4 linked regions of the Homo sapiens genome follow. The protein of the gene in region 4 binds, or shares a complex with, the protein of the main gene of each other region. Each region holds a gene or a part of one and is shown on either strand. Other genes may lie near its edges.

Region 1 (4,426 bases), on a different chromosome or scaffold from region 4:
AAATGCACGACATATACCTAGGACTTTAAGTGCTGTTCCATCATCTGCCTTAAAGCTGGCCGCTGCAGCAAACTGTCAAGTTTCCAAGGTCCCATCTTCATCCTCTGTAGATTCAGTTCCAAGGTGAGTAGTTATTTTTGCCTAACATACCTGGAATAAGAGATCTAACTTCAGTCCTCCAGCATCGTTCTTTACCTATTTCTTTGTGTTTCTTGTTCTTTTCCTTTTATACATTGAAAATGTATAGTTGAGAATTGATCACTTATTTATTCAAGAACTAAACAGTTCTTGAACACTTAATTCAATATTAAGAATTTGAACTAACTGGTATAGTGAATGTTGCATATATGATTTGGAACATCCCTTTCTTACTATAACAATAGTTATACCAGGTGCAGTGGCTCACGCCTGTAATCCTAGCACTTTGGGAGGCAGAGGCAGGCAGATCACCTAAGGTCAGGAGTTCGAGAACAGCCGATCCAACATGGTGAAAGGCCACCTCTACTAAAAATACAAAATCACCCGGGCATGGTGGCGCATGCCTGTAATCTCAGCTACTCAGGAGGCTGAGGCAGGAGAATCGCTTGAACCTGGGAGGTGGAGGTTGCAACCAAGATCGCACCATTGCACTCTGGCCAGGGCAACAAGAGCTAAACTCTGTCTCAAAAAAAAAAAAAAGCGTATAATGCTCTCAGTTTTCTTCCGTCTTTGGATGGAAGGAGTTCTCCTGAGAGCGTTTCTTTTATGACTTTTTTTCCACAGCTTCTCATGTAAACAGGTAGAATTGATAGAAACCCCTGCCCCATCACTGGTATGCTAAGCTATTCTTTTTTTTTTTTTTTTTTTTTTTTTTTTGAGACCGAGTCTCGCTCTGTTGCCCAGGCTGGAGTGCAGTGGCACAATCTCAGCTCACTGCAATCTCTGCCTCCCAGGTTCAAGTGATTCTGTCTCAGCCTTCTGAGTAGATGGGATTACAGGCATACACCGCGATGCCTGGCTAATTTTTGCATTTTTAGCAGGGACGGGGTTTCACCATGTTGGCCATGCTAGTCTTGAACCCCTGACCTCAGGTGGTCAGCCTGCCTTGGCCTCCCAAAGTGCTGGAATTACAGGCATGAGCCACCACGCCCGGCGTTAAGCTATTCTTATTAATGTAAAGACTTACAGTATTCATGCCAGGTCAACTCTAAATTGAACCATTATTTTTTGTGCTAACTTGCCGTCTTGGATTTCAGTAGACAGTTGAGAATTTTGCTTATGCTCTATTATGTTGTAGAATTAAGGGTAGTTAAAATCCTGCTGTCTACAAGGTACTGTGGGAGAAACAAAAGAAAAAGACAGGTGTTTTCAGTTTAGTTAGCAGACAAGCATAAAAGAGTGAGAAGTCCAATAATGCTAATTGTAGATATCACAAAGCATTATATACTTGTTAAATTAATTGTATAGATGATGGCTGTAATTCAGTATAAGGAGAAATCTTTTTTTGCACAGGGAATTCTGGGACTCTTCTAACAAAATAAGATCAGATCCAATCTGTGTTAGTCTTCGGGCAAAGAGGAGAAAGAAAAAGCATTTCTGGCAGGTGGAGTGAAATACAAATTTGAGGCTGAGTGAAAATACAAAGTTGAGGAAATACAAGTGTTTAGAAGTTAACAAGTAAACTGGTTTTTGTATAGGCTCAGGAAGGTTAGTAGTTTAAATTGGAATGGCAGGAGAAGCCATTCCAGATTCCTGGAGCACTTTAAATGCCAGACTGGTAGACTGTCTCAGCCAGGAGTGGCCCAGAAGAAAGCAGGGTTTGTAGCAATGAACTGTGGCCTGTAGTTTCCAAACCATGCATCTGCATCTGCTTCTGAATTTAAGTAACAGTCATTGTCTGCTTAATGCCAATCCATTCTTAATAGTATTCTGGGTCTAATTATATAGCTCATCTGTCAGCTATAGTTCTGACTCATATCATGATTTTACTGCTCTAGAATTGTTTAACCATGGAATATTTGCCATGTATAGAATTTTCATATCACATGTCCTTTTGTTTTTAAAGATGAAGAAACTGAGACGCAGAGAAGTTAATGTATTTCTCTAAGGACACTCAAAAGTCTAGACTGTAGAACCACTAGGGCCCTCGAGCTCTGTGGCTGTGCCACTCAGCTCCATGTATTAGACTGATTTAAAGCCTGACACAAATCTCAGTTATGTTTGTTTCCTTTTTAAAAACTCTTTTGAAAGGTTTAATAGAGAAGGAACTTGAAACAACAATTACTAAAACATGGGAATTCTTTGTTTTTAACATCTAGGTTGCTTGAGTACTACTATAATTTTGATGGTAATGTAGTTGACTGTGGAATTTATTTATAGTCAACATTAGCCTGATTTCTGATAATAAACTATAAAGATTCGTATTCCTCTACTTGCTAGCTTGTTCCCAAAGAGTCCAATTTCTTCCTGTTAATAAAAATAAACTTTTTGTTGGGAAGATAATGTTCATTTGCTGAATATTTATGTTGTAGATAAGTAATTGATTGAACTTTATTTCAACAGGGAAAATCATGAATCAGAAAAGCCAGCACTGAACAACATAGCAGACAACACAGTAGCGATGGAGGTGACGTAGCTTCCTCCGAGTGGAACTGCAGCCTGGGGACTTGATTAGGTGCTATGCATCAGTAGCATTTTGAATGCAAGGGATGATGGAAAGCAGCACATGCGTTTCTGTGGCAGCTGTGGGGACTTGACAGCAATGCTCATCTCTCATGCTTCAATTTTTCTTTTCTTACTGTTAATAGGAAAAAAATCAACATCTGTAAATTAAGAATACAGCAATTATCTGTACAGTACTGCATATTTGTAATACCCTTGTATATATGTTACTTGAATACAGAAATGTTCATTTGTGATGCTTTGCACTTGGGGGTGGGGGGTGGGAGGGAAATCAATTGCAACAAAGAGTGTGAGATGTGAGATTGTATAGAGATGAAGTGTCATCACATCATGTGCATGGTGCGGAACCTGCTGTTTTATCTATTTATTGTGCCGTGTTTACAGTTTTTTGTACACTGTACCTTCATTGGTTCCTGTGCTGTAGTAAATGTGTTAGGTAGCTGTGGACTCCTTGGTATTTTGTAAATGGTATAACATAACTTGGTTCCCCTCTGGGTCCTTGAGTTTTCTGTGTATCATGTGAAAAAAAATGGTGACATACATACAGAATTTTACAAAAAAAAAAAAAAAAAAAAAGGCATCAGTTTTTTTAAAAATGGGGAATGTACTATTAAATGGGGATCTTCCTGGTCTACTATCATTAGGACAAGTAACAAGCTAAAAATGAAGTCTCTTGAATCTTTCCATCCCCAACTTGCCCACAAAGCTGTGGGTGGTTTCTGGTACTTAAAGCACTAATATTATGTTGCTGCTCTGCGAACAGCCCAGTAGTCCCATTTCCTTCCACACCAAAAAGTGTTAAATCAAGTATGCAAATGGAGTCCTTACAACTGGAGTTTATGTTGTCTTGCCCTTTTTTTAGCACAAAAAAAATTGTACTTTTTTATTGTCGAATTGTTTAAAAGACTTCATTCTTTACTTGTTCTTACGAAAAGGATATAAGGGAGAAGAATGCAGTAATTGCTGTACGTGTATCATCATTCCAGTTTCTAAAAACAGCCAGCCAGCTTTTTTCCTTTTAAGATTCTCCAGAAGGCTGCAAGGCCAGAACCACAAATATCGGGTGCCTTCCTTTGGAAATATTTGACCTCTCTTCTGTGAAGAGAATGGTACTTAACAGACTACTACTAGTGCTTTGTCAGTACCGAAGTCTGAATGCCCAGTCCAATGGCATACATTATCCTTAAGGTTTTTAATCCCACCTGGAAAAATTGTGATAGAATTCTCACAAAATAAACCCAGGGCATTACATGTTGACAAACTAATGTGTAGTGGTCTTTTGCTTTTGTTTTCAACCCAAGAACCTCTGTGTGACTTATATTAGAATCATTCCATAAAGGAGGGGATGGAAATGGGGGGTGATGACTTTAAGTTCATTTTCTTCAACAGTTACTTACTGAATGACTGCAATGCCTGGGACCACTTTAGGTCCTACAACTGTGGGGAAAATAATTCCTGCCCTCATGGAGCTTATACTCTCATAGGGGGAAAATAAATAAATAAATGCATTTAAAATATATTACGACCAGTATTTGGAAGAAAAGTGAAGGAAGGGAACAAACAGTGCCCGGGAAGGCTGGAGGTTGCAGTTTCAAGTAGGGTGGTCAAGGAAGGGCCCACAGGCAGTTATGTTTCATCAGAGACTGGAAGTTAAGGAAAAATATTCCAGGCAGAGAGAAGTACAGAGATCCCGAGGTGGTAGTGTGTCTACTGCACTGGATAACACCGCCAGGGCTGGAGGGAGCTGGGGTAGGGCGTGTCGGCC
Region 2 (5,104 bases), on a different chromosome or scaffold from region 4:
CATCATTTCCTCCTAACTGATGTTTGTAAAAGACAGCCTGGGAACACATTAATCCCCTCAGCTTTAATCTGGTATTAAGCCATATCACCAGAGGGTAGTAGATCAACCACACATTAGCTTAGTGCCCAATCAACATACTTGCACTAAATTAAGGATTTACTACCATTCCTTCGGCTTTTATTGAGAGTCATTAAGAGACATCACTAGAAAAGAGAATGTTTGTATATCATCTATGAAAACCATTACTTTTTATAATATAAGGATATAATGATAAATGCTCCCTAGGATTTAAGGCTGAAAAAGTTTGTGTCTCTTGAAGAACTTGTATGCTTCTTTCTTACTAAAAAAAGAAATACAAGGTTTGGCTACCAGGAAGCTCACAACTAAATTTAATATCAATTGCTATTACCATTTTAGCAGAGGTTCCTGGTACAATTACTTCTGATCTGTCTCTATTTTTACTGTTCCTACTTTTTGTTTATATTGTAAGCCTCCTTAAATCCTTTTTGGAAGCATGAAGGGTACATATTAAATAACAAGTCGTAAAATGACAGAAATAGGAAAATGGCCTTAGAGGAGGGATGAGAAAGTTCTATTTTAAACTAGTTGGTTAGGGCTGTGTCAGTAATGACTCTGTCAGTGATGTGGGTTTTTTTTTTTTTTGAGACAGAGTCTCACTCTGTCGCCCAGGCTGGAGGGCAGTGGCGCAATCCACTGCAACCTCTGCCTCCTGGGTTCAAGTGATTCTCCTGCCTCAGCCTCCTAAGTAGCTGGAATTACAGGCACACGCCACCACAACCAGCTAATTTTTTGCATTTTTAGTAGTGACAGGGTTTCACCATGTTGGTCAGGCTGGTCTCGAACTCCTGACCTCGTGATCCACCCGCCTCAGCCTCCCAAAGTGCTGGAATTACAGGCGTGAGCCACCACACCCAGCCCCTAAGTCCTGTGGGTTCTATTCCTTAATTTCTCTTGAATCTTTCTGTTTCTCTACTGCCATGCCCCCTTCAAGCCATTCTCATTACAGAGTAAGTAACCTTCCTAAAGTACAAATTTCATCGTGGAATTCTGATGACTCTTCTCAGTCCTCTGGATGAAGAGCAAAATTCCTTAACATAGCTCACAAGGCCCTAAAGGATCTGGCCCATGCCTACTCCCTGCAGGCTTATCAATCTTTAGTCTCCTTCATGCTCTGGAGAATGAAAGTAGACTTGCAGGTCCTAGACCAGGATCTCAATGTCTTTACATACTCAGCCCATCCTGCTCTGTGGACTAACCTTTCTCCTTCTCCTGCTTTTCATCAAGCTAAGGTCTACTTTTCAAACTGTCCTCAGCTTAAACATCATCCCTCCAGGGATGCCTATCCTGATCAACAACTTTGGTTCAGATGTATTACCTTAACACTCTTACACCTTGTTTTAGTCCTTATCACACATTTTTTGTTTGTTTTTGAGACGGAGTCCTGCTCTGTCGCCCAGGCTGGAGTGCAGTGGTACGATCTCGGCTCACTGCAACCTCCTCCTCCCAGGTTCAAGCGATTCTCTGCCTCAGCCTCCTGAGTAGCTGGGACTATAGGCGCACACCACCACGCTTGGCTAATTTTTGTATTTTAATAGAGACAGGGGGTTTTACCATGTTGGCCAGGATGGTCTCGATTTCCTGACCTTGTGATCCACCCGCCTCGGCCTTCCAAAGTGCTGGGATTACAGGCGTGAGCCACTGTGCCCGGCCAAAGCCACTGTGCTCGGCCTATCACACAGTATTTTAACTGTTAACCCAGGCAGTTACCCCACTGGGGCATGGAGTATGTAAGGACAGAGCACTGTTTTTAATATTCTGTTTCCCTAGAGCCTAAAACAACCTATTACCGATGGCATGCTCTGGGTACTCAACACATTTAATAAACGGGTAGATTCAACTAATAAAAATTTAGCAAGTGGCAGCCCAGTCCGGACACCTCACACATAATGTTGAACAAAACAGACCATCTCTAACTTTATACAGTTTACAATGCAATAGAAAAGCATAAGCAAGTAAGCAAACCAAATCTAATTGCAAATTGAAATATGTTCTGTGGAAGAAATAAATGGGGACACTTGTTAGGATAGTCAAGGAAGGGTTATCTTCCTGAGAAAACATTTACACTGAGACCTGAAAGCTGAAAAAGAAGTGGGCTAAGCTCCTCTACTTTTGGAGCGGTTCCTTTCCATGTCTCAGGTGAATAATCCAGCAGTGGGCCAACGAGTATACATCGAGCAACTGTCTACTACTATGTGTGTGCCTCGTGTATGCTGGACGTCAGAAGTACAGTGAAAGATGCAACCACGCAAGTATACGGTAGGTTTCTGCCGTTCTCTGTTCTCTGGAGTGCCTCCGGAGAGCTTCTCCGTCTCAGGCCCCTTTGACCCCATCCAGAGCTCTCCCTTCTAGGACTCCACACTATCCGTTCCCCCGCCTCGCCCCCCGGCTCCGATTCACCCACCCAACTCGAGTATCAGCTCCCAGAGCTCCTCTCTATTCCCCGCCCTCTTCTTCTTTGTCCGGGGTTTCTCCCTTCAGGGCTCCTCTTTGCCTCCTCCCCTCCCTTTTCCCAGGCCCGGATCTTGCCTCTGTGAAACCCCCATAAGTCGTCTGGTAGAACTCATCTTCCTCCTCTGCCTCCAAAAGCCCAGAAAGCCGGTTCCCAGCGGTCTTCCGGGGTGCCCGGCCCCCAGCCAAACTCATACCGCCTACCGAGACTGCGCCGCCACCTGCAGCCCCTCACCAGCTCGGTTTTGGGAGCTCGACGCTCGACATCACTACCTGCGGGTGGCCACCAGCGGCGGAAGTCGGGCGTTTACAGGCAGAAGTAACAGAGTGTCGAGAGACTCCCAGTCCCACCCTCTAAACCCTCTTTACTCTTCAGCCTCTCCTACTCCTGCGCGGATGCTCTAGGCCGCTTGCTCTAGTACCCAGCGATCTCCCTTGCTCAATGAGTCCACTTGGTGGTACGAAGACCCCCATAACCCTAAGTCAACACATTTTATTTTATTTATTTTTATTTTATATATATATATGGTTTTTTTTTTCCGTAGGGACGGAGTCTCGCCTCGCTCTGTCGCCAGACTGGAGTGCAGTGGCACGATCTCGGCTCACTGCAACCTCCGTCCCCCGGGCTGAAGCGATTCTCCTGCCTCAGTCCCCCGAGTAGCTGGGATTACAGGCGCCCGCCACCATGCCCAACTAATTTTTGTATTTTTAGTAGAGACAGCTTTCACCGTGTTGGCCAGGCTGGTCTCGAACTCCTGACCTCAGGTGATCCGCCCGCTTCGGCCTCCCAAAGTGCTGGGATTACAGGCATAAGCCTGCGCCCCCAGCTCACATTTTCTTTTAGAAGAGGTCATTCTCTCCGCTCCAGTCCATTTTCTACACTGCTGCTAGTAGGAAACTTTCTAAAAACCCACGTTTTGCCACTCCTGTCCTCAAACATTTTTAATGGCTCCACATCATCTACAAGATAAAGTCAAAAATCCTTGAGGAAGGAAGCATAGTATTGTGGTTAAAAACACAGCCATAGACATTTATCCAAAGGAAAGGACATAATTCAACCTGAGGAAGCCAATTTAGGAGGAAAAAAAAAAAGGAAATCAGTATATCCAAGAGACGTCTGCACTCCATATTTATGCACCCCCATATTTATTGCAGCACTACTTAGAGTAGCCAAAATAGGAAATCAATCTCTGTGTCCAACAACAGATGAATAAAGGAAATAGGGTGTATATACACAATGGAATACTTTTCAGCCATTAAAAAGAAGAAAATCCTGTCATTTGCAGCAACATGGATGGAACTGGAGGACATGTTAACTGACTTAAGCCACGAACAGAAAGTTAAAACACTGCATGTTCTCACTCATATGTGACGCTTTTAAAAAGTTGATTTCATAGAAGTGAAAGAACAGAGGATACTGGAGGCTGGGAAGAGCAGGGGGAAGGAAGGGACAGGGAAAGATTTGTTAAAAGACACAAAATTGTGGCTCACACCTGTAATCCCAGCACTTTGGGAGGCCGAAGGGGGTGGATCATGAGGTCAGGAGTTCACGACCAGCCTGGCCAAGATGGCGAAACCCCATCTCTACTAAAAATACAAAAATTAGCTGGTCGTGGTGGTGGGCGCCTGTTATCCCAGATACTCGAGAGGCTGAGGCAGAGAATTGCTTGAACTCGGGAGGCGGAGGTTGCAGTGAGCCGAGATCGCGCCATTTGCTCTCCAGCCTGGGAAACAGAGCAAGACTCCGTCTCAGAAAAAAAAAAAAGACAAAATTGGGCCTGGCACAGTGGCTCACACCTGTAATCCCAGCACTTTGGGAGGCTGAAGCGGGCAGATCCCGAGGTCAAGAGATTGTGACCATCCTGGCCAACATGGTGAAACCCCGTATCTACTACAAATACAAAAATTAGCTGGGTGTGGTGGCGCGCACCTGTAGTCCCAGCTACTAGGGAGGCTGAGGCAGGAGAATCGCTTGAACCCGGGAGGCAGAGGTTGCAGTGAGCTGAGATTGTGCCACTGCACTCCAGCCTGGCAACAGAGCAAGACTCCATCTCAAAAGAAAAAAAAAAAAGACACAAAATTACAATTTTTTTTGAGACAGGGTCTCTATTGCCCAGGCTGGAGTGCAGCAGCAGGATCATGGCTCACTGCCTCCTTGACCTCCTGGGCTCAAGCTGTCCTCCCACCTTGGCTTCCAAAAGTGCTAGGATTACAGCTGTGAGCCACCACACTGGCCCCCAATTACATTTGTTTGTTCGTTTGTTTGTTTGTTTGAGATAGGATCTCACTTTGTCACCCAGGCTGGAATACAGTGATGCAATCACTGCTCACTGCAGTCTCGACCTCCTGGGTTCAAGTGATCATCGCACCTCAGCCTCGTGGGTAGCTGGAACTACAGGCTCGTGTCACCACGCCTGGCTAATTTTTTGTACTTTTTGTGGAGATGAGATTTCATCATGTTGCCCACGGTGATCACCTGAGCTCAAGTGATCCCCACTCCTCAGCCTCTCAATGTGCTGGGATTACAGGTGTGAGCCACCTCGCTTGGCCCCAAATTACATTTAGATAGGAGGAA
Region 3 (3,764 bases), on a different chromosome or scaffold from region 4:
GTCTGCCTCTCTGGCCTGCGGTTGGGGAATGGGGTGTGGGAAGGCAGGAACAGAGGGCTTCCTGGGCTCCTGAGTCCAGGACCTGTGGGGTCAGCTTGGGAGCTCAGCTGAGGCGCTGGCCTCAGGCACATGCTCATTCCCCCACTCACACGGCCTCCAGATGCGCGTGCTGCAGGCGGTCCTGCCGCCCCTGCCTCAGGTGGTGTGCACCTACCGTGATGTGCGCTTCGAGTCCATCCGGCTCCCTGGCTGCCCGCGTGGTGTGGACCCCGTGGTCTCCTTCCCTGTGGCTCTCAGCTGTCGCTGTGGACCCTGCCGCCGCAGCACCTCTGACTGTGGGGGTCCCAAAGACCACCCCTTGACCTGTGACCACCCCCAACTCTCAGGCCTCCTCTTCCTCTAAAGACCCTCCCCGCAGCCTTCCAAGTCCATCCCGACTCCTGGAGCCCTGACACCCCGATCCTCCCACAATAAAGGCTTCTCAATCCGCACTCTGGAGGTGTCTTTCTGTGGGCTCAGGGCAACCACACATACACAGGGTGGGTGCAGCTTCCCAACCATTTTATACAGAGTCACAGTGTCAGAACTCTGGTGGAAAACAGGGTGGGGTCGGGGGATGACATCCAACTCAGGAGGTGTCCATGGTCTCGCCTTCTGTGGGGAGAAGGAAGGCCACATGGTCAGTGTCGCCCAGGTGGCAGGGCCTGAGCCTTCTACGCCGAGCTCCCTCTTCCTCCCTCTGAGGTTGGCTCTGGCAGTGCAGGTGCGGGGTGGGGATTCTTACTGAGTTCGTTGAAGAGGAAGGCGTCCTGGTACTCCTTCATGTACTGCGTGGAGCGGGACTCGTCCAGGAAGAGTGAGTAGACCCGCTTGATGTCATCCACCTGCACTTCTGTACCCTGGAGGGGGAGGGCGAGTCCTCAGTTGGGCCCCTCTCCGTGAGGCTCAAGGCACAGACCCCAGCGTATGCCACCTCCATGCTCTAGGCAGCAGAGTGTGGCATGTGAGGGGAGGGCATTCTGGGCCAGATTGCCTGGGTTCAAATCCTGCCTGGCCATCTCCTTGTTGTGGGCCCAGCCTCTTCATTCCTCAGTTTCTTTATCTGTAAGGTGGACCTAACAGCATCTACTTAAGTCAAGAGAGATTTACTGATACCTACTATAGGCCAGGCTGGATGATACAGAAGCCAACCTGAGGGATGAAAATTCCCTGCGTCTGAAAACGTACATTCTAGGATGAAATCGGAACCCTGGAAGCCCCTGAAGTACTGTGTCACTCACTGCCGCCATCTGGCCCTGCTGGCTAATTCGGCCGGCTGACCTTGCGTTTCCGGCACACCAAGCTGGCAGCTGTGATGAGCTGGATGGCGTAGCGCAGTGACGTCTCCAGCCCGATGCGGGTCAGCACCGTGTAGGCGTCCTCACTCATCTCCACATCTTCTTCCTCGCACCTGCAAGCAGTGGGGGACAGGGGTGGCTCAGCCGGGGCCCAGCCTCTGACTGCAGCAGAAGTGGCCACAGCAACCCTCTGGCCCTTCCCCACTGGGAATATGTGGCGCCTGCATCTTAGAACCATAGAATGCTGAGGCTAGAAGAGCCACGGAGACAGGGGCTGGGCTGGACCTAAAACCGAGGCCTCCTGACCACCCCCAGGGCGCTGGCCCCAACACCAGTCACGGGTACCTCGCCTCCCTTTCCCACCGTGGCTCCTGCTCCCGGATCGGAGGCCACCGTCTGGGTGCCCGCTCAGCCCTCTCTCCTGTAGGCCCAGCCACCATGCCACTCCGCTGGACCTCAGTGTCAGCATTTGTCAAACAGGGTAGACCCCAGCCCTGCGTCTCAGGCGCACGGCCTGGTCCTGCCCGCACCGGATGCGGAGGATCTGCTTCGTGTCTTTCTCGCTGTAGGGGGTGGTGGAGACGATAAGCAGCCGGTCCAGCAGGTCTATGGGGATGCCGTGAGGGCTCTGGTAGCTGGTGCCCCGGATTCTGAGGAAGAGGCAGAAAGAGGGGGCTGTCAGGGGCATGTTCCCTCTTCATTCCCTTTGCTGGGAACACTCTCACCTCCCATCGCCACCCACTCACTGGGCCCAACACCACTTAACCTTTAGCTCGCGTCTCCTGTCACATGATGACATCACCCCTGATGACGCAGCCTTCCACAGCTGCGTCAGTCCCCCAAGGGCACCTTTCCGCGGAGCTGGGCTGCTTTAAGCTAGATCTCTGCCTCCAGGATTACTGGATCAAGGTCCCACTCCCGTGCTCGACACAAAGCTTCACAAAGGAGGGGACTGCACCTGTCTTGTTCCCTGCTGCAGCGGGGCCAGCCCAGGGCTGGTGCCAGGGGATACAGTCAGTTCCCCTTATTCACAGTAGTGAGGTTCTAGAAAGTCATCGTGAACACTCCAATTAGCTGATCCTGAGCCACTGCTCCTACTGGAATACAGGGTTAGGCTCTCTCGAGCCTCGGCTTACAGTATTTTCATCAATCCATATATATATAATCTGGGTCTATGCGTATTTTCATTTGTGTGTTTCTGGTCTTTTTGGTTTGTTTTTTGAGACGGAGTCTCGCTCTGTTGCGAGGCTGGAGTGCAGTGGCGCGATCTCGGCTCACTGCAACCTCCGCCTCCCGGGTTCAACCGATCCTCCTGCCTCAGCCTCCCAAGTAGCTGGGTCTACAGGCGCACGCCATCACGCCCAGCTAGTTTTTTCTATTTTTAATACAGACAGGGTTTCACCATGTTGGCCGGGACGGTCTCATTCTCTTGACCTCGTGATCCACCCACCTCGGCCTCCCAAAGTGCTGGGATTACAGGTGTGAGCTACCGCGCCTGGCCTCATGTATGTGTGTTTCTATTTCCATGTGTTTGTTATGTAACATCACTGTTTATTCTCTAACATGGAGCTCGTGTCAACAGCATTCTAACTTGGGCTCAGCGAAGCGTCTGTAACATGGCATTTTCTCCGTCAGGCTTCACAGCCTCCTTGCACTTAGGATACTAGACAGCACTTCAACACTGTGCACAGGGGACACTTTAAATGGCAATATCACCAACAAATGGCCCCAAAAAGTTTAAAAAAAAAAGGCACAAAAAAAGTGACAACACTTTGGGAGGCTGAGGCGGGTGGATTGCTTGAGCCCAGGAGTTTGAGACCAGCCTGGGCAACATGGCAAAACACCATCTCTACAAAAAAAAAAAAAAAATTAGGCCGGACGCGGTGACTCACCCCTGTAATCTCAACACTTTGGGAGGCTGAGGTGGGCAGATCACGAGGTCAGGAGTTCGAGACCAGCCTGGCCAATATGGTGAAACCCTGTCTCTACTAAAAATACCAAAATTAGCTGGGCATGGTGGCGGGTGCCCATAATCCCAGCTACTCAGGAGGCTGAGGCAGGAAAACTGCTTGAACCCAGAAGGCAGAGGTTGCAGTGAGCCGAGATCGTGCCACTGCACTCCAGCCTGGTGACAGAGCTAGACTCCGTCTCAAAACAAAAACAGAAATTAGCTAGGCATAGTGGTGCATGCCCGTGGTCCCAGCTGATGAGGAGGCTGAGGCCAGAGGACTGATTGAGTCCCAGGGGTGGTGTGTGTGTGTGTGTGTGTGTGTGTGTGTGTGTGTGTGTGGTGGGCACTGAGGCTGCAGTGTGCCATGATCGTGCCTCTGCACTCCAGCCTGGGCGACAGAGCAAGACCCTGTCTCAAAGAACAAAAGTGACAAACGTAGCACTAAATAGAATACAACAAGGACACTTATTTACAGC
Region 4 (2,527 bases):
CTGAGTTTCTTCAAGCATCCACTTGTGCTACCAGGCTGAGAAGTTCTGAGGATGTGACCCCATCTGGGCATCATTTAACCAATAAAATTTCTCGAATGGACCATAACCTTGATCAGGTAAAGCCTCTGTGTCTTCACCAGGTCAACAGCTAGAACTTCCTCCTTGTTTCTCAGGTCAGAGCTTGGTTATTCCAAGTGAGTGGTGAGACAGACAGAATGGGGGGTGATGGGGAGTAAGAGGCTGGGAAGAAGGGGCCTCAGGGTTGGGGAGGGCACTGAAGAGCCCATGTGTGATGAAGTTCAGAGTCCCTTCTGGCTTTAAGAGACTGACCTCACTGGACACAAGGAGCGAGGGACAACATGCTTATGTCTATCTGCTGACAGCATTTTGGATACCTGCCTGCAAGGCTCAGGGGACAACTGGGGACATTAGCCACTGGTCCTTGCCCCAGTACTCGTATCATGGCACACGTTACCAGATACATCAGCACCAGCGGCTCACTAACCTTCTGCCCATGGCTCCAGGCAGGAGCACGTAAGTCAGATTTGGGGAAAGCTGAGTGGCACTTAGAACCCTGGCCAAGGAGCAAACTGGGGGGCTGAGAACCTACCCCAGATAAGCAGGGCAGTCAGCCTGAACGGAGAGAACCCCGGGAGAGTGCCACTGTTATTTCTGGCTGGTTCCCCTAGAGGCTGGGCTGCACAGCCAGGGTTGAGAATCACAGTAGCCTGGCCCATCTGCCTGTGAGGCACCGATAGTGGGTCCACTACCCCCTGGCCGCAGCACACATACTCACTGAACTCGATCAGCAGCTTGCCGTAGCCCCGGCGCTGGTAGGGAGGCAGGGTTAGGATGCAGGCCACATTGTAGTCTTCCGTTGATTCTTTCTCCTGGAGAAGGGGGACAGGTGAGTGTCAGGGAAGGGATCTGGCTCAGGACAGGGCACAGGGACAGCTTGGGCAGGCACTGACCTTGGAGAAGTAGCCCACGATGTGGAAGCCCTTACAGTCATACTCTGTCATGACGTAGAAGAGGAAAGGGTCTGTGTCATAGTACAGTGTCTTATGGTCAAGGAAACACTTGGCCAAAAGACACAGGTTCTGGGAATAACTCTGCAAGAGAAAAGGCTTGTCACCACTCTGGGTATCCCGCCTTGAGCCTGGCCAGTGGTTCAGGGTCAACCAGGAGCTTCACTGTTCGTGCTATGCCCCAGGCTGCTAGGTGATGAGTGTTCTTCCCTGGCTGGGCCTGACCCACTCCACCAGCCCGCAGCTTAGGCAGGGCTGCTCCTCAGTGTTGAAAAGCCTGTGTGCCAGATGTGTGATGGTGTCTGAGTGCCTCCCTGCTCAGTCAGGCAAGTTTCCCGCCTTGCTCCGCACACCTCCATTCTAAGCCTGACCAGGAGAGACCACTGCCTTTTAATGTTTTTTAACAGCAGCCAACGAACTAATGTGTCCAAAGTGAGACTCTGACCACGGCTCCTCAAACTAATGTGTCCAAAGTGAGACTCTGACCACTGACTCCCTATCTAACAGTCTTGGGAGTCTAGCTGTTAAAAAACCTAACATTCTACATCCACAGTCACACCTCCTGGGAACTGATCTGCTACTCTACAACAGAGTTAAGGAATTCTGGAATTTAACAAAATAACTGCCTTAGGGTTTACCCCAGCAAAATTATGAATCCTGCTGCTTTACTTCTGCACACGATTTCTCCTGCATTTCAGACATTGTGGGTTTTTTTTTTTTTTTTTTGACACAGGGTCTCACTCCTGTCACCCAGGCTGGAGTGCAGTGGTGCAATCATGCAATCGTGGGTCACTGCAGCCTTGACTTCCCAGGCTCAGGTGATTCTCCCAACTCAGCCTCCCGAGTACCTGGGGGTTTCTCCATGTTGCCCAGGCTGGTCTCGAAATTCTGGGCTCAAGTGATTGGCCCACCTTGGCCTCCCAAAGTGCTGGGGTTACAGGTATGAGCCACTGTGCCCAGCCAGAAATTGCTTTTTATTTATTTATTTTTTTTACACGAAGTCTTGCTGTCTCCCAGGCTGGAATGCAGTGGTGCAATCTCGGCTCACTGCAAACTCTGCCTCCTGGGTTCACGCCATTCTCCTGCCTCAGCCTCCCGAGTAGCTGGGATTACAGGCACCCGCCACCACGCCCAGCTAATTTTTTGTACTTTTTAGTAGAGACAGGGTTTAACCGTGTTAGCCAGGATGGTCTCGATCTCCTGACCTTGTGATCCGCCCGCCTCAGCCTCCCAAAGTGCTGGGATTACAGGTGTGAGCCACCGTGCCCAGCCCAGGAATTGCTTTTTAACCGCCTGCTGCTGGGTACTGCCACTTGGATGCCCAGGTCCACATTAATAATTACAAAATGGTGGTTAACACAGCATCTTCATCACCTAAGCTCTGTCCCATGTACGAGCCTTCCCTCATCCTCCCTTTTCTGCCTCCCAACCAGAATGATCTCTGCCTTTCACAAAGACCACCTTTGTGCATCCATGCCTACTCTTCAGAACACCACTGC

The links. The genes of interacting proteins can lie anywhere in the genome.
Region 1: KAT5 (region 4) and EPC1 share a complex: the UniProt entries of both Homo sapiens proteins name them as parts of the nuA4 histone acetyltransferase complex.
Region 2: KAT5 (region 4) and VPS72 share a complex: the UniProt entries of both Homo sapiens proteins name them as parts of the nuA4 histone acetyltransferase complex.
Region 3: KAT5 (region 4) and RUVBL2 share a complex: the UniProt entries of both Homo sapiens proteins name them as parts of the SWR1-like complex.

The regions. Positions count from the first base shown.
Region 1 is NC_000010.11:32,267,251-32,271,676, reverse strand, and holds the end of EPC1 (enhancer of polycomb homolog 1), read left to right. Parts: coding exon 1-123; intron 124-2,541; coding exon 2,542-2,614; 3' UTR 2,615-3,926; downstream 3,927-4,426. UniProt on the Homo sapiens protein: Component of the NuA4 histone acetyltransferase (HAT) complex, a multiprotein complex involved in transcriptional activation of select genes principally by acetylation of nucleosomal histones H4 and H2A.
Region 2 is NC_000001.11:151,187,398-151,192,501, forward strand, and holds the start of VPS72 (vacuolar protein sorting-associated protein 72 homolog), read right to left. Parts: upstream 2,801-5,104; 5' UTR 2,725-2,800; coding exon 2,608-2,724; intron 1-2,607. UniProt on the Homo sapiens protein: Deposition-and-exchange histone chaperone specific for H2AZ1, specifically chaperones H2AZ1 and deposits it into nucleosomes.
Region 3 is NC_000019.10:49,012,707-49,016,470, reverse strand, and holds the end of RUVBL2 (ruvB-like 2), read right to left. Parts: intron 1,988-3,764; coding exon 1,868-1,987; intron 1,451-1,867; coding exon 1,321-1,450; intron 900-1,320; coding exon 785-899; intron 655-784; coding exon 629-654; 3' UTR 501-628; downstream 1-500. Other genes in the region: LHB (lutropin subunit beta), read left to right, coding at 161-403. UniProt on the Homo sapiens protein: Possesses single-stranded DNA-stimulated ATPase and ATP-dependent DNA helicase (5' to 3') activity; hexamerization is thought to be critical for ATP hydrolysis and adjacent subunits in the ring-like structure contribute to the ATPase activity.
Region 4 is NC_000011.10:65,715,252-65,717,778, reverse strand, and holds part of KAT5 (histone acetyltransferase KAT5), read right to left. Parts: intron 1,113-2,527; coding exon 972-1,112; intron 891-971; coding exon 797-890; coding exon of another isoform or gene 793-796; intron 107-792; exon of another isoform or gene 1-106. UniProt on the Homo sapiens protein: Catalytic subunit of the NuA4 histone acetyltransferase complex, a multiprotein complex involved in transcriptional activation of select genes principally by acetylation of nucleosomal histones H2A and H4.